Regions from separate parts of the Homo sapiens genome. Here region 2 is linked to region 1. Evidence: fine-mapped expression QTL. A gene starts in region 1. The other region holds a variant in brackets. All regions are shown on one strand. Distances are between the middles of the regions. Region 1 holds the start of ZNF837 (zinc finger protein 837). Region 2 overlaps ZNF587 (zinc finger protein 587).

Evidence for each region.
Region 2: its variant is fine-mapped to the expression of ZNF837 in prefrontal cortex (CommonMind, PIP 0.95).

What each region holds. Positions count from the first base shown.
Region 1 is chr19:58,375,968-58,384,902 of GRCh38, reverse strand. It overlaps ZNF837 (zinc finger protein 837), which reads left to right and starts at 3,873. Exons shown (of 3, transcript NM_138466.2): 1 at 3,873-3,962. LOC105372484 (a long non-coding RNA gene) reads right to left here and starts at 7,320. Exons shown (of 2, transcript XR_936130.2): 1 at 6,794-7,320; 2 at 5,878-6,118. RefSeq lists a silencer at 3,612-4,121 and enhancers at 4,472-4,531, 4,066-4,607, 4,562-4,791, 4,608-5,149.
Region 2 is chr19:57,860,555-57,868,992 of GRCh38, reverse strand. It overlaps ZNF587 (zinc finger protein 587), which reads right to left. Exons shown (of 3, transcript NM_032828.4): 3 at 3,876-8,438. It also overlaps the pseudogene UBE2CP5. Among named protein-coding and RNA genes, the nearest start is that of ZNF587, 15 kb to the right of the region's middle. The variant AT/T (reference allele first, on the strand shown) is at 4,864.

The sequences.
Region 1 (8,935 bases):
TCCATCCTGAGTGGCCGGCCCCAGACTGGACTCCTCACTTCTGGGAAGGCACCCTCTGGGCCCTGCTGGGCCACCTGCCCACTCTCCAGGCAGTCACTTTGCCTGTCCACCCTACCAGCCACAGTCTTACTGTTAGCTGATCTTACATCCTTGTGATGGCTCCTTTTTTTTTTTTGTGACGGAGTCTCACTCTGTTGCCCAGGCTGGAGTGCAGTGGCGCAATCTTGGCTCACTGCAAGCTCCGCCTCCTGGGTTCATGCCATTCTCCTGCCTCAGCCTCCCGAGTAGCTGGGACTACAGGCGCCCGCCACCACGCCCGGCTATTTTTTTTGTATTTTTAGTAGAGATGGGGTTTCACTGTTAGCCAGGATGGTCTCGATCTCCTAACCTCGTGATCCGCCTGCCTCGGCCTCCCAAAGTGCTGGGATTACAGGTGTGAGCCACCGCACCTGGCCGTGATAGCTCCTTAATGCCTTTACTGGCACCTTGGTTGTCTGTTGAAGTCCCCAGCCTGATTATCAACTCGTTTGGAGTGTGCTGGATTCAGTCCACCCAGTTGCCTGGCAGAGCCAAGCCTGGCCCTGCCGCATCCCAAACTTGATCTTGTGCCCATGGCTGATACTTCATGGGCTACTTTGGCCTAGCCACTGTCTGCTTCTATGGGATGCCCACCTGTAATGGATTGAATGGTGGCCCCCAAAAAGGTAAGTTCATGCCCTAATACCCAGACCCAGCGAATGTGACCTATTGGAAAAAAATCTTTGCAGATGTAATTTAGTCAAGGATCCCAAGATGAGAGCATCTAGGATTAGTAGGGTGGACCCTAAATCCAATGACAAGTGTCCTTATAAGAGACAGAAGAGGGCCGGGCATGGTGGCTCATGCCTGTAATCCCAGCACTTTGGGAGGCCGAGGCGGGCACATCACGAGGTCAGGAGATCGAGACCATCTTGGCTAACACAGTGAAACCCCATCTCTACTAAAAATACAAAAAAATTAGCCAGGCGTGGTGGCGGGCGCTTGTAGTCTCAGCTACTCGGGAGGCTGAAGCAAGAGAATCACTTGAACCTGGGCGGTGGAGGTTGCAGTGAGCCAAGATCGCACCACTTCACTCCAGCCTGGGTGACAGAATGGGACTCCGTCTCACACACACACACACACAAAGATTCTTAAGGAAATGTGGCCGAGTCATCCAGGATGCTTCAGCCACTGGGGTTTGCTTTCGTGGCTCACCAGCACCTTCTCCCCTCCTGGGAACTGCCAACTTCCATTTCTCCTCTGTTCTTCCAGATCCTACAACCAGGATTCTGTGTTGGGGGCCAAGATGCCCTGCTGAAGCCTCTATTCCCTGAGGCTGCTTCGCAGTAAGCTACCCCAGGCCCTCAGGAGAGGTGTGAAATGGAGCAGAGGCCCTTTGCTGAAGACAGCATAGAGCCAGAGGGGGACCTCTGCGGAGGGATGGCCGGTAGCAGGACAACTCTCCTGGGTGCAGGGTCCCAGGCCTACAGACATAGAATGAGCCCCAGACTGGGGACCTGTGGGATTGGTAAAGTTGGACCCCTTGGGTGGGAGCCCCACTGGAGCTTCCTCTCCAGGTCCTTGCCTGATTCAGTCTCATTCCTGAAATCGCTCCTGTGTAACCATTGTCACAAGATGCTTCTCTGGTGCTGCCCCTGCATGAACCCTGCAGGGTCCACTTAGACAACAGGCTTGTGTAGAAGTGAAGAAAGCCTACAGACTGTCACAGCCCCCATAGCCGGTCCCCTCCAGACAAGTCCCCCGCACCTGTGCCTGCCAAGTGGTTAGGCCTTTCATTGGTGCTTCAAACTCCACTCCAGGGCTGCCAGTCACCCCATGCCAGCCCTGCAGGGACAAGGCCTTTGTGTGGTGGCCAGGCCTGTGGTACCACCAGAATCTTCACTCCAGAGGGAGGCCCTTTCTGTGCCTGGGAGTGGGAAGTTCTTCCACATAGGCTCAAGACTCCTCCAGTAGCAGTGCATCCACAGGTGTGAGAAATCCTACTTGTGTCAGGCCGGGTGCAGTGGCTCATGCCTGAATCCCAGCACTTTGTGAGGCCGAGGCGGGTGGATCATGAGGTCAGGAATTCAAGACCAGCCTGGCCAAGATGGTGAAACCCCATCTCTACTAAAAATACAAAAATTAGCCGGGCGAGGTCGTGGGCACCTATAATCCCAGCTACTCGGGAGGCTGAGGCAGAGAACTGCTTGAACCTGGGAGGCGGAAGTTGCAGTGAGCTGAGATCGCGGCCACTGCACTCCAGCCTGGGCAACAGAGCAAGACTGTCTCAAAAAAGAAAAAAAAAAAGAAATCCCACTTGTGTCCCAATTGGGGCCAGTGGCTGAACCTGTCAGACATCTGCACACCCACACAGAGCCAGCAGCTGCACTCCTTTCTCTGTGACAATTGTCAAGGCCTTCCTGTGCAACTCTCTTCAGCCACCAAGGGACCCACAAGGCGGGCAGCCCTCCAAGTGCCCTTCAGCCTCCTGCTCGCCCTCAATTAGCTTGGTAAGCCCTGAGTTTTGTACTTGGGCAGGGAGATAGACCTCCTGACAAGGCTTTCGATGTGCAGACACCCAAAGGATGGAGAAAGGGAGTGGAACAGTCCCAGCATCCCTGAAGCAGATGCAGTGGAGGCAGAAAGGTGGGGCAAACTGGGTCGTTACATGCAATATATGTGCTGGACTGGCCAACAAAATTAGATGTCCCTATTGAGGGCAGGAGCCACACAATAGATGGGGGCAAGAGCTGGGGGTTACAAATGGGTAGGAGGCGTGACCAGTTCATCCTACCTGGGAGGGCCCGTAGAGTCAGCAACACCCAAAGGGGCTGGGGAGGCTGTGGTTCCCCAATGGGGCCGCACGTGTTAGAATCAACTAGGAGCCGGACTAGGGGCCTGGCGCAGTGGCTCAAGCCTGTACTCCCAGCACTCTGGAAGGCTGAGACACGAGGATCGCTTGAGCCCAGGAGTTCCAGACCAGTCTGGGCAACATATGGAGACCCTATCTCTAAAATAAATAAATAAATAAAAATAAAAAAACTATCCAGGCATGGTGGCTCCCACCTATAGTCCCAGCTATTCGGGAGGGTGAGGTGGGAGGGTCGCTTCAGTACAGGAGTTCGAGACCAGCCTGGGCGACATAGTGGGAGGAGGAAGGGAGGGGGAGAAGGAGGGGGAGGGAGAGAAGAAAGAAAATTAGCCGGGCGTGGTGGCGCGCGCCCCTGTTAACAGCTACTCTGGAGGCTGAAGTAGGAGGATCGCTTGAGCTCAGGAGGTCGAGGCTGCAGTGAACCGTGATGGTGTCACTGCATTAGCCTGGGCGACAGAGCGAGACCCCGTCTCAAAAAAGCAAACCAAAAAAAATACAAAAAAATAGACTTAACTGAGGAGTTTTGACGCGCATATGCTCGGGCCCAGTCCCAGATTCTGATGTTATCGGTCTGACTCGCAACGCGCTCACCAAGACACTTCAGAGCTCCCCAGGTGCTTCCCAGCCCAACTCTCCCACCCGAGGGGAGCCTGCGAACCGCAAGTCGGTTCCGGGTTGGGACCTCTTAGAAATCAGATTGGGAGAGGAGGCTATCAATCATAATCATGACCAGTCACCCGCTTTCACGAGAAGGAATGGGCGGGACCCTACGTCCCCGTCCAGAACGCCGTTTCTTTGGCGACGACTTAGGTCCACGCCCCGCCTTTTAGGTGTAGCCGGCCTCTGTTTCTATGATAACCGAAGCCCAAGCCTCTCCCTACACCGCTTTCTCCGCAGCGTCAAAGCGGGACATGACGGGACTACGTTTCCCAGCAGTCCCCGCGCGGGTTCCCGCCTGCGCTTGCTGTGGCCCGGGTCCCTCAGTGCCGCGGCGGCCCGGAGGTGGCGGGAGGACGGCTCCGCGCTGCATGCGGGGCGGGGACCAGGGACCCGTGCGGGCCGCCTCCAGAGAGTAAGTGGCATTCTGCGCGGACCCGCAACCTCGGCCTGCGAGGCGGGGACCTCCCGGCGCATAGCGCGGCCACCACCCCAGTCCCCTCTCCACCTCCGCGCGCGGGGTCCGGGGCAGAGGCGTGACGCCGCGCACTTCCGGTCCTCGCGCTCCGGGTCCGGACCGGCCACACAGCACTCGCGACCTTGAGTTCCGGGCGGGACGGGCTTCTGTAGTTCTGGCCCCCGCGTTTCCGTGCTGGGTGTCATTGAAGCCCGCGAGGGGAGGCTCCAGGCCCGGGACCCATCCTGGCGGCCTGCGGCTCTCGGAGTCAAGCCCACCTGCTAGCCGAGGCCGACGCCGGCCTCCCTACCGTCTCTGCCCCCGCATCCTGGCCTTTGCACTTTGCTCTTTCCTTGTCTGCAGACCGGTTTCATGCCCCCTCTTCACAGAGGCCCGAAGAATCCGCTGCCTCCCTCCCTGGCGCCCTCGCGCTGCTCCCTGTCTGATGTTCTTCACGTCTTTTTCTCTCTTAAACGGTCTCTTGTTCATTTCTTCTTGTCTGCGGTCCCCTCCTTCACTCACTATTAGAGCAGGATGCAGCACCGTTTGGCCCTGACACAGTGGATGTCCTGCGAGGGTTGAAGCTTGCTAATCCTTGAGGGTGGAGGCACTGTCGGGAGGACAGACACAGAAGGGAGCTGTGCCTGCACTCAGAGGACATTTCTTCTGCTGTACAGTGCATGATGCACTGTTCTTCCCATTGCGTGCACAGTGTAGAATTGGACATAGGGGCTAGAGTCTGTGTCCCCTGGGACTGTCAGTGTGGGTGAGGTTGGTCTGTGGCTCAGAGAGGTGGAGCCACGCTGAGCTGGGCACTAGCCTGTGTCCTCCACACCTCAGAGCCACCAACGTTGACTTCCCTGCACATTCTGTTTTTGTTGTTGTTGTTGTTGTTGTTGTTTTGAGACGGAGTTTCGCTCTTGTTGCCCAGGCTGGAGTGCAGTGGCGCGATCTCGGCTCACTGCAACCTCCGCCTCCCGGGTTCAAGCGATTCTCCAGCCTCAGCCTCCCGAGTAGCTGGGATTACAGGCATGCACCACCGTGCCTGGCGACTTCCCTGCACATTCTCTTGGGCAAATAAGACCTCATTGTGCCGTGTGCAACCTCCATGAGGATGTTGAACCTCACTAGCTTTCCTGTGTGTGCTGTTGCTCTGCAGTTCTGCAGGGCTCAGCCTTGGCCACGTTAACCTCTCAGTCCCCCTAAATTGGTAACTCTGCATCCTGTTCCCAACACCAGAAGCCCTAAGGACAACTAGAAAGGCTGGGCGAGCACCCAGGTGCAAGCATGCTCACCTGGGGCAGGTGGGAGGTCACTGTAAGAACAGCCTGGGAGAGCTGTAATGCACCATCAAGGACGGGCTCCTGGGACCTGGGACCCAGAGCCTCGATTGTGTTTGCTGTGCTCAGCCTCAGATCATGGGTCCATGGCTGGAATGCCACCCACCTACAGGTGGGATAGTTGGACAGTGCATCCTGGGAGCAGATCAAGGAGACGAAGAGACTCGGCCATGGTCCACAGCTCCCACCTGCTGTGTCTGGTGCTGGGAGGCAGGTTCTTGTTGCAGCAGAGGAGCCACCCCTGGGAGCAGGGCATCTGGGGACCAATCCGAAGATGCTGTTAGCACATGGCTAGCAGGTGCCCCTCAGCCCCCACCTCCCACAAGTTCAGGGTCCCTTTCTGCCAAGTGGGGACTGCTGGTTCTTCAGGACAACCCAGCTTCCCCAACCCTCTGTTCAGACACTAAGCAGTCCTCTGACTCCCCATCACTAGGGATCAGGAGAGCCCCTTACAACACACACATTCTGTCGAGGGTGCTAGACCAGTCTCTATTAGTTTCTGTGGCTGCTATAACACACTACCACAAACTGGGCAGTTTAAAACAACAGAAATTTACTCTCACAGTCCTGGAAGCCAGAAGTCTGAAATCAAGGTGTCAGCAGTACTGTGCTCTCTGACGGCTCTGGGTGGGGGTCTTTCCTTGCCTCTTCCGGCTTCTGGCGGCTCCGGGTGTTCCTTGGAGTGTGGCTGCATCACTCCAATATCAGCCTCCATCTTCACATGGACCACTCTTCTCCGTGTCAGAACTCCCTTTGCCTCCTTCATAAGGACACCTGTCATTGGAATTAGGGCACACCCAGGTTATTCAGGGTGATCTCATCACAAGATCCTTAATTATGTCTGCAAAGACCTAATAAGGTCACATTCTGAGAGTTCCGGGGTTAGGACATTGGATATATCTTTTGCAGCCTCCTTCAGTGGAACCTGCCTGATCCTGGGTGACCTCATGTGCCCATCCATTCTTGGGCCTGTCCACTGATTCCATGGTGATCAATTGTCCCTGTTTGGCCAGGCTGTCCCAGGTATGGTCTTTCACCCTGGGAAGTCCTCAGCCCCTAAGTCCCTAGAGTTCTAGGAAGTCATGCTGAGTGCTGGTCCTAGCCCTGCTCATGCCACCAGCTGTTGTACAGACTGTGACATGAAGCCAGCAGCCTTGGAGCTAATAGCAAGGCAGGTGCCCAAGTCCCTCCATCCCTGACATCTGGGTCTCTGTGACCTGGAGTTGTGTCAGAGAGGTCCAGATCCTGGCTGTGGGGCTTCTGGGATGGCACATTGTGAAAGCGGGGCCCCTGACCTCCTGCTGCTCAGCATCCATAGTGGCATGCTCCCTCCTCCGTGTAAAGGGCTGGAGTCCACACTGGTACCCCCATCAGAGTCTATGGCTGGGGAGTTCCCTGCCCTATGTGTGGGGACCTCAGATCCCAGCCTGGCAATGACCCTGGACCAACCCCTTTAGCAGTGGGTCCTGGTGGCTTTCTCAGGAGCTCTTCAGTCAGCCTGGCCTCTCAGAGGTAGACGAGGGAACACTACAAAACCTGCAGTGCTCAGAGACAGAGGCTTGAGAGAGTGTGGGGAGGTGGGCAGGATGGGCCTGCCCCGAATAGCCAGGTCCACGGCCAGCAGATGGACTCGAGAGAGAGAAGCCGACACCTGTGAGAAACGCCAGATACTGTGTGTGGTGGTTGGGAGCCAGCAGGCAGCCTGGGTGTGGACAGAGCTCCATGGTCAGACAGACCAGAATGTGTGTCTCCATGTCTTGTGTCCTGCCCTCAGTCTCCTCCCTCCCGTCACAACTTCCCATGTGGTGGCAGCAGTGCCCTTGGGTGTGTGCCCCTGTAAGGAATTGCCCTGTGCCCTGAATATCATTCCCAGCGAGCATGTTCAGTTTCTAATGAAGAGTTTTCTTTGCTTTCTTTTTTTGAGATGTGGTCTCACTGTGTTGCCCAGGCTGGCGTGCAGTGGTGCAATTGTAGCTCACTGCAGCCTCAATCTCCCAGGCTCAAGCGATCATCCCACCTTAGCTTCCTGACAGCTGGGGCTACAGGCTTGCACCACCACACCTGGATAGTTTTTTTTTTGAGATGGAGTCTCGTTCTGTCACCCAGGCTGGAGTGCAGTGGCAAGATCTCGGCTCACTACAAGCTCCGCCTCCCGGGTTCACACCATTCTCCTGCAGGCGCCCACCACCACACCTGGCTAATTTTTTCTATTTTTTAGTAGAGACGGGATTTCACCATGTTAGCCAGGATGGTCTCAATCTCCTGACCTCGTGATCTGCCCACCTCCCAAAGTGCTGGGATTACTGGTGTGAGCCACTGCGCCCAGCCTTTTTTTTTTTTTTTTGACGGAGTCTCGCTCTGTCGCCCAGGCTGGAGTGCAGTGGCACGATCTTGGCTCACTGCAACCTCCGCCTCCCGGATTCCAGTGATTCTCCTGTCTCAGCCTCCCGAGTATCTGGGATTACAGGTGCGCGCCACCTCGCCTGGCTAATTTTTTGTATTTTTAGTAGAGATGGGGTTTCACCATGTTAGCCAGGCTGGTCTCAATCTCCTGACCTCGTGATCCACCCACCTTGGCCTCCCAAAGTGTTGGGATTACAGGCATGAGTCACCACGTCCGGCCATTTTTTTTTTTTTTTTTAATAGAGACAGGGTTTCACCATACTGCCCAGGCTGGTCTCTAACTCCTGGGCTCAAGCCATCCACCCACCTTGGCTTCACAAAGTGCTGGGATTATAGGCATAAGCCACTACACCCAGCCAAGTTTTCTCTTTGATATGAGTGAATTAACAGACACCTGGTTAAAGAAAATGCTTTTACCCCAGAGCTTAAGCCTCTGATGTGGAAACTATGCTTGGTACTCTGGTATGCAGTTGACTTGGCTGTGTGTGAGAAATTATTTTATTTTTACCTAGAGATTTAAAAGAACTTGTTTTTCTCTTTTTTTTTCCTTTTTTCTTTTCTTTCTTTTTTTTTTTTTTTTTTTTTTTTTTTTTTTTTTTTTGAGACAGAGTCTTGCTCTGTCACCCAGGCTGGAGTGTAGTGGCCTGATTTTGACTTATGGCAAGCTCTGCCTCCCGGGTTCAAGCCATTCTCCTGCCTCAGCCTCCGGAGTAGCTGGGACTACAGGCGCCTGCCACCACACCCGGCTAATTTTTTGTATTTTTTTTAGTAGAGATGGGGTTTCACCGTGTTAGCCAGGATGGTCTCGATCTCTTGACCTCGTGATCCGCCCGCCTCGGCCTCCCAAAGTGCTGGAATTACAGGCGTGAGCCACCGCGCCCGGCCAAGAACTTGTTTTTCTCAATACAAATGTATTGCTTAAAAGAAACCACCTTCGGCCGGGCGCAGTGGCTTGTGCCTGTGATCCCAGCACCTTTGGGAAGCTGAGGCAGGGGGATCACTTGAGGCCAGGAGTTTGAGACCAGCCAGGCCAACAGGGTGAAACCTCATCTCTACTGAAAATACAAAAATTAGCTGGGCGTGGGGGCAGGCACCTGTAATCCCAGCTACTCGCCAGGCTGAGGCAGGAGAATTGCTTGAACCTGGGAGGCAGAGGTTGCAGTGAGCCGAGATTGTGTCACTGCACTC
Region 2 (8,438 bases), 520 kb after region 1:
TCATCACAAGGGCTCCACCAAGGTTTAAATTAAAAGACAAAAGAAAAATAGTACCACAGCTCAAGATACAGAGTTCTACACAGAAATCACGGAAAGGGCAGACCATCTAAGGGAAAATTAAAAAGACAACACAAGGATAGGCTGGGCAGCCTGGGTCAGAGCTCCTGGCTGGTGACCTACTTTGAGTAGCTTTCTTGCAGGTACTTCCTTATTTTTATTTTTATTTTATTTTATTTTTTTTTGAGGCAGAGTTTCACTCTTGTTGCCCAGGCTGGAGTGCAATAGCGAGATCTCGGCTCACTGCAACCTCCACCTCCCAGGTTCAAGTGATTCTCCTGCCTCAGCCTCCCGAGTAGCTGGGATTACAGGCATGCGCCACCACACTTGGCTAATTTTTTTATTTTTTTAAATAGGGATGACATTTCTCCATGTTTGTCAGGCCTTGGACTCTCTACGTCAGGTGATCCATCCACCCACCTCGGCCTCCCAAAGTGCTGGGATTACAGGTGTGAGCCACTGCGCCTGACCCTTGCAGGTACTTCTTAAAGCTATGGGGTTTTCCCAGAGCTTGGTAGCATGTGTGTTCAAAGGGCTATCAATGTTGAGTTGTCCTAGCAGGCACTGGATAGAGAGCAGGATGGTCCTGATATCATACGGGGCAGACCACTTCTCCTTCAGGATGTCCAGGCATATGTTACCCTGGGTGTCCACGTTAGGGTGGTAGCAGGGTGTGAGGAACTTCACTGTGGGTGCATCGTAAAGGTGGGTAGTCATTGAGGAACTCCAGCAAGAGCTTATACCTCAGATCTTCATACACTGTGCCAGCTGCTTCATGGATGGTGTCCATTTGATAAGGCTTTCAGGGTAGGCAGAAATTCTTTTGTCACCAGGCATCATGAGGGTCATCAGCTCCTGCTGTAGCCTTTTGGCTACAGGGCCCCAGGCAGTGCCCCTGCTGGGCTCAGCTCCTTTATGGGCGGTGGCGACACTAACAGTGGCTGGGTCAAAGTTTTGTGAGGCTATCTGGGTGGCACTGGCAGAGAGACAAGAACTCAGAAAATGTGACTGCATCTGTGATCATCATGTTTATTTTTTATTTTTATTTATTTATTTTGAGACGGAGTCTTGCTCTTGTCACCCAGGCTGGAGTGCAGTGCTGTGATCTCGGCTCACCACAACCTCTGCCTCCTGAGTTCAAGCCATCCTCTTGCCTCAGCCTCCCGAGTAGCTGGGATTACAGGCACGTGCCACCACGCCCGGCTAGGTTTTTGCATTTTTAGTAGAGACGGTTTCTTCAAAGTTGATCGGGCTGGTCTCAAACTCCCAACTTCAGGTGATCCACCCACCTTGGCCTCCCAAAGTGCGGGGTTACAGGTGTGAGCCACTGCACCTGGCTGAAAAATAATGCGGTGGCTCTGGCCAACATGGTGAAACCCTGTCTCTACTAAAAATACAAAAATGAGCTGGGCTTAGTGGCACACACCTGTAATCCCAGCTACTTGGGAGGCTGAGGCAAGAGAATCACTTGAACCCAGGAGACGGAGGTTGCAGTGAGCCGAGATCACGCCACTGCACTCCAGCCTGGGCGACAAAGTGAGGCTCCATCTCAAAAAAAAAAAAAAAAGGAAATAGTTTTAAGTTCTCCCATCCAAGTAGTAACCAGGCCCGACCCTGCTTAGCTTCCGAGATCAGACGAGATCAGGCGCGTTCAGGGTGGTATGGCCATAGACGGAAATAGTTTTAAGTTCTCAATCAACTTCAACTGAATGGTTAGTGGTCAGTTTTGTAATCACAATGACATTCTTGCAAACAAATACAATGTGTGGCATCTCTCTTTGATATACTGGATAGTTAAAAATTGTTTTAAAGTTTTGCCTAATATTTTGCGATTTATCTCAATGTAATCTGTATAAGTAGTAAAATTATAGATGACTCCTTTCCTTTTTTTTTTTTTTAAGACAAGGATCTAGCTCTGTTGCCTAGGCTGGAGGGCAATGGCATGATCACAGCTTACTGCAACCTCTGCTCCTGCATTCAAGCGATTCTCATGCCTCAGCCTCCCGAACATCTGGGATTACAGGTGCATGATACCACATCCGGCTAATTTTTGGATTTTTAGTAGAGACTGTTTCACGGTATTGGCCTGACTGGTCTCGAACTCCTGTCCTCAAGTGACCCACCTGTCTTGGCCTCCCAAAGTGGGATTACAGGCATGAACCACTGCACCCAGCCTAAATGACTACCTTTTATGTTGCACATTTTAAGTAACTTTTGTCATTTCCATCTTGGGTTGTTGCTTTTTTGTTTTTTGAGACAGAATCTCGCTCTGTCGCCCAGGCTGGAGTGCAGTGGCCTGATCTTGGCTCACTGCAAACTCCGCCTCCTGGGTTCATGCCATTCTCCTGCCTCAGCCTCCTGAGTAGCTGGGACAACAGGTGCGTGCCACCACACCTGGCTAACTTTCGGTATTTTTAGTAGAGATGGGGTTTCACTGTGTTAGCCAGGATGGTCTCGATCTCCTGACCTTGTGATCCGCCCACCTCATCCTCTCAAAGTGCTGGGATTACAGGTGTGAGTCACTGTGCCCGGCCGTGTTGTCACTTTTAATGTGCTTTGGTTTTAATTTTCTGTAGAAAAGTAAAACAAATTTTTCCCTTTAAATTTAATCCTTGCTTTTAATGACTTGTGCACCCCAATTTACTAAGAAAATAAACCATTTAAAAAATAATCTTGAGTTGGGCATAGTAGTTTATTCCTGTAATCCCAACACATTGGGAGGCAGAGGCAGGCTGTTGACTTGAGCCGAGGAGATTGAGACCAGCCTGGGCAACATGGCAAAACCCTGTGTCCACAAAAAATGCAAAAATTAGCCAGGCAGGGTGCCTGTCTGTAGTCCCAGCTACCCAGCAGGCTGAGGTGGCACGATCACTTGAACCCTGGGGGTGGTCAAGGCTGCAGTGAGCCATGATCATGCTACTGCATTCCAGCCTGGGCAGCAGAGCAAGATTCTCTCCAAAAATAACATAAAAAGTATGTGTGTGTGTGTGTATATGTACACACATATATACGTATATATGTGTGTACATATACACACACACACACATATATGTATATATATAAAAAATGCCTTTATGTGTAGGCTTGATTTAATTTTCAATTTTATGTGAAGCATAAATTGAGCAGTTTTTCTATCTCAATTTTTAATCTATTTTAACATTGTATTACATTATCTATTATTTTCTCTCCAAATTGATAAGCAATGTACACCCCTCAGACATGGACTGTGATTTCTTTTTTTTTTTTTTGAGACAGAGTCTTGCTCTGTTGCCCATGCTGTAGTGCAGTGCCACGATCTTAACTCACTGCAACCTCTGCCTGCCAGGTTCAAGCAATTCTATGCCTCAGCCTCCTGAGTAGCTGGGATTACAGGTGCTAATTTTTGCATTTTTAGTAAAGACATGGTTTAACCATGTTGGTCAGGCTGGTCTGGAACTCCTGACCTCGTGATCCACCCACCTCGGCCTCCTGAAGTGCTGGGATTACAGGCATGAGCCACCACACCCAGCCAGGAAAGTTCCTTATAGATTCTTTCTAGCTATTGAAAAGAGAATTATAATCATCTAAAGAGGATTAATTCAACACTTAGGGAAAGTAGAGGTTAGCAAGAGGAAGTTACTTCTCTTAGAGTATGTGATTCAAAGGAAAAAATGTGCCACATCAAATATACATGGACTGGCTAAACATTTCTAGGTACATGTAGATTTATAAGCCACTGTAAGATTCAACACAATGAGGAAATTACTGGTGTAATAAAAATAAACATTAGATTGATGAAACACAGTAAAATAATTTCAAACAGGAAAGAGGTATGAATCTTTTGTACAAAAAAAGTTTGACATATATTTAATTCACATACAAGCAGGAAGATTAACTTCATAAGAGAATTAACAAAAGTTGTATTAATTCAAGACAAGAGACTGCAGAGACTAAAATTGCTTAGTACTGAAACTTTTGCTTATATAAACTGTAGTTTATGGAGAAAATAAAGAATTTTTTTGTTTTTTTTGAGGCAGGATCTCACTCTATTCCCCAGGCTAGAGTGCGATGGCACCATCTCGGCTGATTGCAACCTCCATTTTCCAGGAAGGCTCTTTAATTCCCCCTGATTACAAAGGTTTTGTGTGAACATAATTTGGTGTAATAAAAAAAAATTTACACCACAAGAGACAAACATACTCTTCAGTGTGTGTGGTCATAATTTGTTTGAACGAGCCCTTTTAAACTTCTAGATATCATTGAAACTCCTATGTTGATTAAAAATCATCAAAGATCTTTCCAGTGAGAAGGATGAAGATATTACTGAGAATGAAGTATCACTATTTCATGTATGTGCCTGTATGTGCTTATATAACATGCTGTAATACAAGGTGACATTTAGGGGCTGAGACTGTTAACATCTGACTGTACCTTGCTATTTGTAACTTACAATCTTATTCACATTTCTCAAGTGCCATGCCTTTAGGTGCCTATACATCATGCTATCATAGGATTTCTAGGGATAAGCCGAGTGCGGTGGCAGATGCCTGTAATCCCAGCACTTTAGGAGGCCGAGGGGGGTGGATCATGAGGTCAGGAGTTTGAGACCAGCCTGGCTAACGTAGTGAAAGCCCATCTCTACTAAAAATACAAAAATTAGCTGGGCGTGGTGGAGGGAACCTATAGGCCCAGCTACTCGGGAGGCTGAGGCAAGAGAATCACTTGAACCTGGGAGGCGGAGGTTGCAGTGAGCCGAGACCATGCCATTGCACTTCAGCCTGGGTGACAGAGTGAGACTCTGTCTCAAAAAAAAAAAAAAAAAAAAAA[AT/T]TTAGGGATAATATCTAAGCCCATATAACATGCTGTTATAAAGTTATAAAGTATAACATTTATGGATTGAGTTTTTTTTTTTTTTTTGAGATGATGTGTCTCTCTGTCACCAGGTTGGAGTGCACTGGTGTGATATTGGCTCAGTGCACCTTCCACCTCCCAGGTTCAACCGATTTTCTGGCCTCAGCCTCCCGAGTAGCTGGGACTACAGGCACCCGCCACCATGCCCGACTAATTTTTGTATTTTTAGTAGAGACAGGAATTCACAATATTGGCCAGGGTGGTCTTGAACTCCTGACCTTGTGATCCGCCCACCTCAGCCTCCCAAAGTGGTGGGATTACAGGCCTCAGCCACCACACCTGGCCAAGATTCTTCATATAGCTGATTATCTTGCCATTTCTAACTTACAATCTTTTATCCACATTTCTTAACTTTCTTTTGTTACACTAAACGGGACAGGAAGTCTTAACTCTTGTATCCACCAAGCATGTTAGGAAAATAACAGAGATTCCATTAGCAAATTAAGCTCCCCAAAAAACACAAATACATATCTAAAAAATGTTGCAAAGACAAGAAGTGGCCAGGGCGTGTTGGCTCACGCCTATAATCCCAGCACTTTGGGAGGCTAAGGCGGGCGGATCACGAGGTCTGGAGATCGAGACCATCCTGGCAAATACAGTAAAACCCCGTCTCTACTAAAGAAAAGAATACAGGCCAGGTGCAGTGGCTCACGCCTGTAATTCCAGCACTTTGGGAGGCCGAGGTGGGTGGATCACGAGGTCAGGAGTTTGAGACCAGCCTGACCAACATGGTGAAACCTGGTCTCTGCTAAAAATACAAAAATTAGCTGGGTGTGGTGGCACGCACCTGTAATCCCAGCTAAAGAGGTGGCTGAGGCAAGGAGAAGTGCTTGAATCCAGGAGGTAGAAGTTGCAGTGAGCTGAGATTGCGACACGGCACTCCAACCTGGGCAAGAGAGCAAGACTCTGTCTCAAGAAACAAAACAAAAAAATTAAGCTGACGTGGTGGGCGCTTGTGGTCCCAGCTACTCAGGAGGCTGAGGCAAGAGAATGGCGTGAACCCGGGAGGTGGAGTTGCAGTGAGCCGAGATCGTGCCACTGCACTCCAGCCTGGGTGAAAGAGTGAGACTTCTCAAAAAAAACACAAAGTGTCCACTCAATAACTTTGCTTGAAACTGTCTTCATGTTCTTCACTTCACAAATATAAAGCTGTTACAGTGGACTTTGTGAGGTTCCATGTTTTTGGTCAGCCATAAGAGGAAGAATAATTCAGAGTGAGAGGAAACAGATTCTAGGCAGCCCTCAGGGAAGTTGAGGAGGTGGCACCCTGCCTCCGGGTCCCTCAGAATGTCCCATCTCCCTGTCAGTATCAGTGTCCCAGATAATCTTCTTCTGATTGGGACATTTCCCTGGGAACAGTGGTTACTTGCCAAATTCACATTTACGGCCAAAACTGTGGCTGCAGTGTCGACATTCATGCAAGTGGGGAAATGGGCATGTGACCCCTGAAAAAAGATTCTGGATTCCATAATCTCACCTTGCTGAGAAGAAACTGCCATTTCAGCAGAAAGTGCAATGACAGTTTCTGCACAGGGACTGGAGATTATCTCTAGAAAAGAGCTTGGAGTGAGGAAATTAGTTAATGTGGATGAATGACGTTACCCATGGAGAATGAAGTAAGTAGCTAGAAGACAAAAGCCTCAGAACACATAAATCTCAATGGGTATTGAGTAGAGGACTCAGAGCTCTGAGATAATTGGAGCTCATGGCTATCCTAGAACTTGGATAACATAAAGTTCTTGTTTCTACAAAGTGTGTATCCTTTCCATATGTGAGAACTGTGAGGAAGTACAAACTTGGAACAAAAGAAATAGTAAGGTAATCTTAGAAAGATGTTGAAAAGAAAGCTATGGTGGCATCTTAACTGTTTCACTGCCTGGCAATCTATATGTATTGTCACTTTGGGACGCTTATGATTCCACATGAAGTGGATAACCAGCTCATAGTTCTTGTGGTACTGAAAACCAAGTATTCAGCCAGGTACAGTGGCTGACACCTGTAATCCCAGCACTTTGGGAGGCCGAGGCAGGTGGATCACTTGAGCTCAGAAGGTAGAGAGCAGCCTGGGTAACATGGTGAAACCCCATCTCTACTAAAATAAATAAATAAAATTAGCCAGGTATAATGGCACATGCCTGTAGTCCCAGCTACTCAGGAGGCTGAGGCAGAATCGCTTGAACACAGGAGGTGGAGGTTGCAGTGGGCCGAGATCATGCCACTTCACTGTAGCTTAGGAGACAGAGCTAGACTCCATCTGGAAAAAAAAAAAAAAAAGAAAACCAAATATTCCTTGCAGCAAAGTGACATCACTGAAGAATGAATGAAGTCCAACATACGTCTTTGTTATTTCATTATTTTTAAATATATTAATGAAATGGGAAATAGATAAAATTCATTTTAAAAAACAAGCCTACAGGTGAGGCCAGGCAGGGTGCCTCACCCCTGTAGACCAAGCACTTTTGGAGCCTAGGCAAGTGGATCGCCTGAGCCCAGGAGTTCGCGATCAGACTGGGCAAAAAGGTAAAACCCTCTCTACAGAAAATACAAAAGTTATCCAGTTGTGGTGGTGCATACCTGTATTTCCAGCTACTCTGGAGGCTGAGGTGGGCAGAGTGCTTGAGCCCAGGAAGCAGAGGTTGCAATGAGCTGAGATTGTGCCACGGTACTCTAGCCTGGGAGACAGAGCGAGACTTTGTCTCAAAACAAAAAAAATGCAAAACATAAACCACTGACTCAAAAGTTATAACCACTTATTAAAATAATAAACAATTTCAAATACTAACCATACTCCCTCTTGGTAAGATAGAACAGAAATTCTTGGACACTGATGGTAGATAGATATACAAATGAGCAATAATTTCATTCTTAAGTCATAGTTTGGCATTGCTTAAAAAGTTGTACATTAGGCCAAGCACAGTAGGTCACACCTGAGAAGCTGAGGCAGGCAGATCACTTGAGGTCAGTTCATAACAAGCCTGGCCAGCATGGTGAAACCCCATTGCTAATAGAAATAAAAAAAAAAGTTATCCAGGCATGGTGGTGCACACCGGTAATCCCTGCTACTCGGGAGGCTGAGGCAGAAGAATCAGTTGAACTTGGGAGGCAGAGGTTGCAGTGAGCCGAAATCATGCCACCTAACTCCCGCCTGGGTGACAGAGTGAGACTCTGTCTCAAAAAAGAGTTGTACTTTAATCTATCACGTGACTCAGGCACTGCACACCACCATATTACCATAGTGAAACATACCTACATGAACAACTGCATTCAAATATAGCAGTTTCATTTATAACAGACAAAAACAAGAAGCATGTCATTCTTTTTTCTTTTTGTAGAGAGGAGGTCTGGCTATGTTGCCCAGGCTGATCTCTAACTCCTGGCCTCCAATGAACCACCTTGTCCTCCCAAAGCATCAGGTTTACAAGCATGAGCCACCATGCCTGGTTCAGCATGTCATATTCTAAGCAATACGAAAAGAATGAAGGCCAGGTGCAGA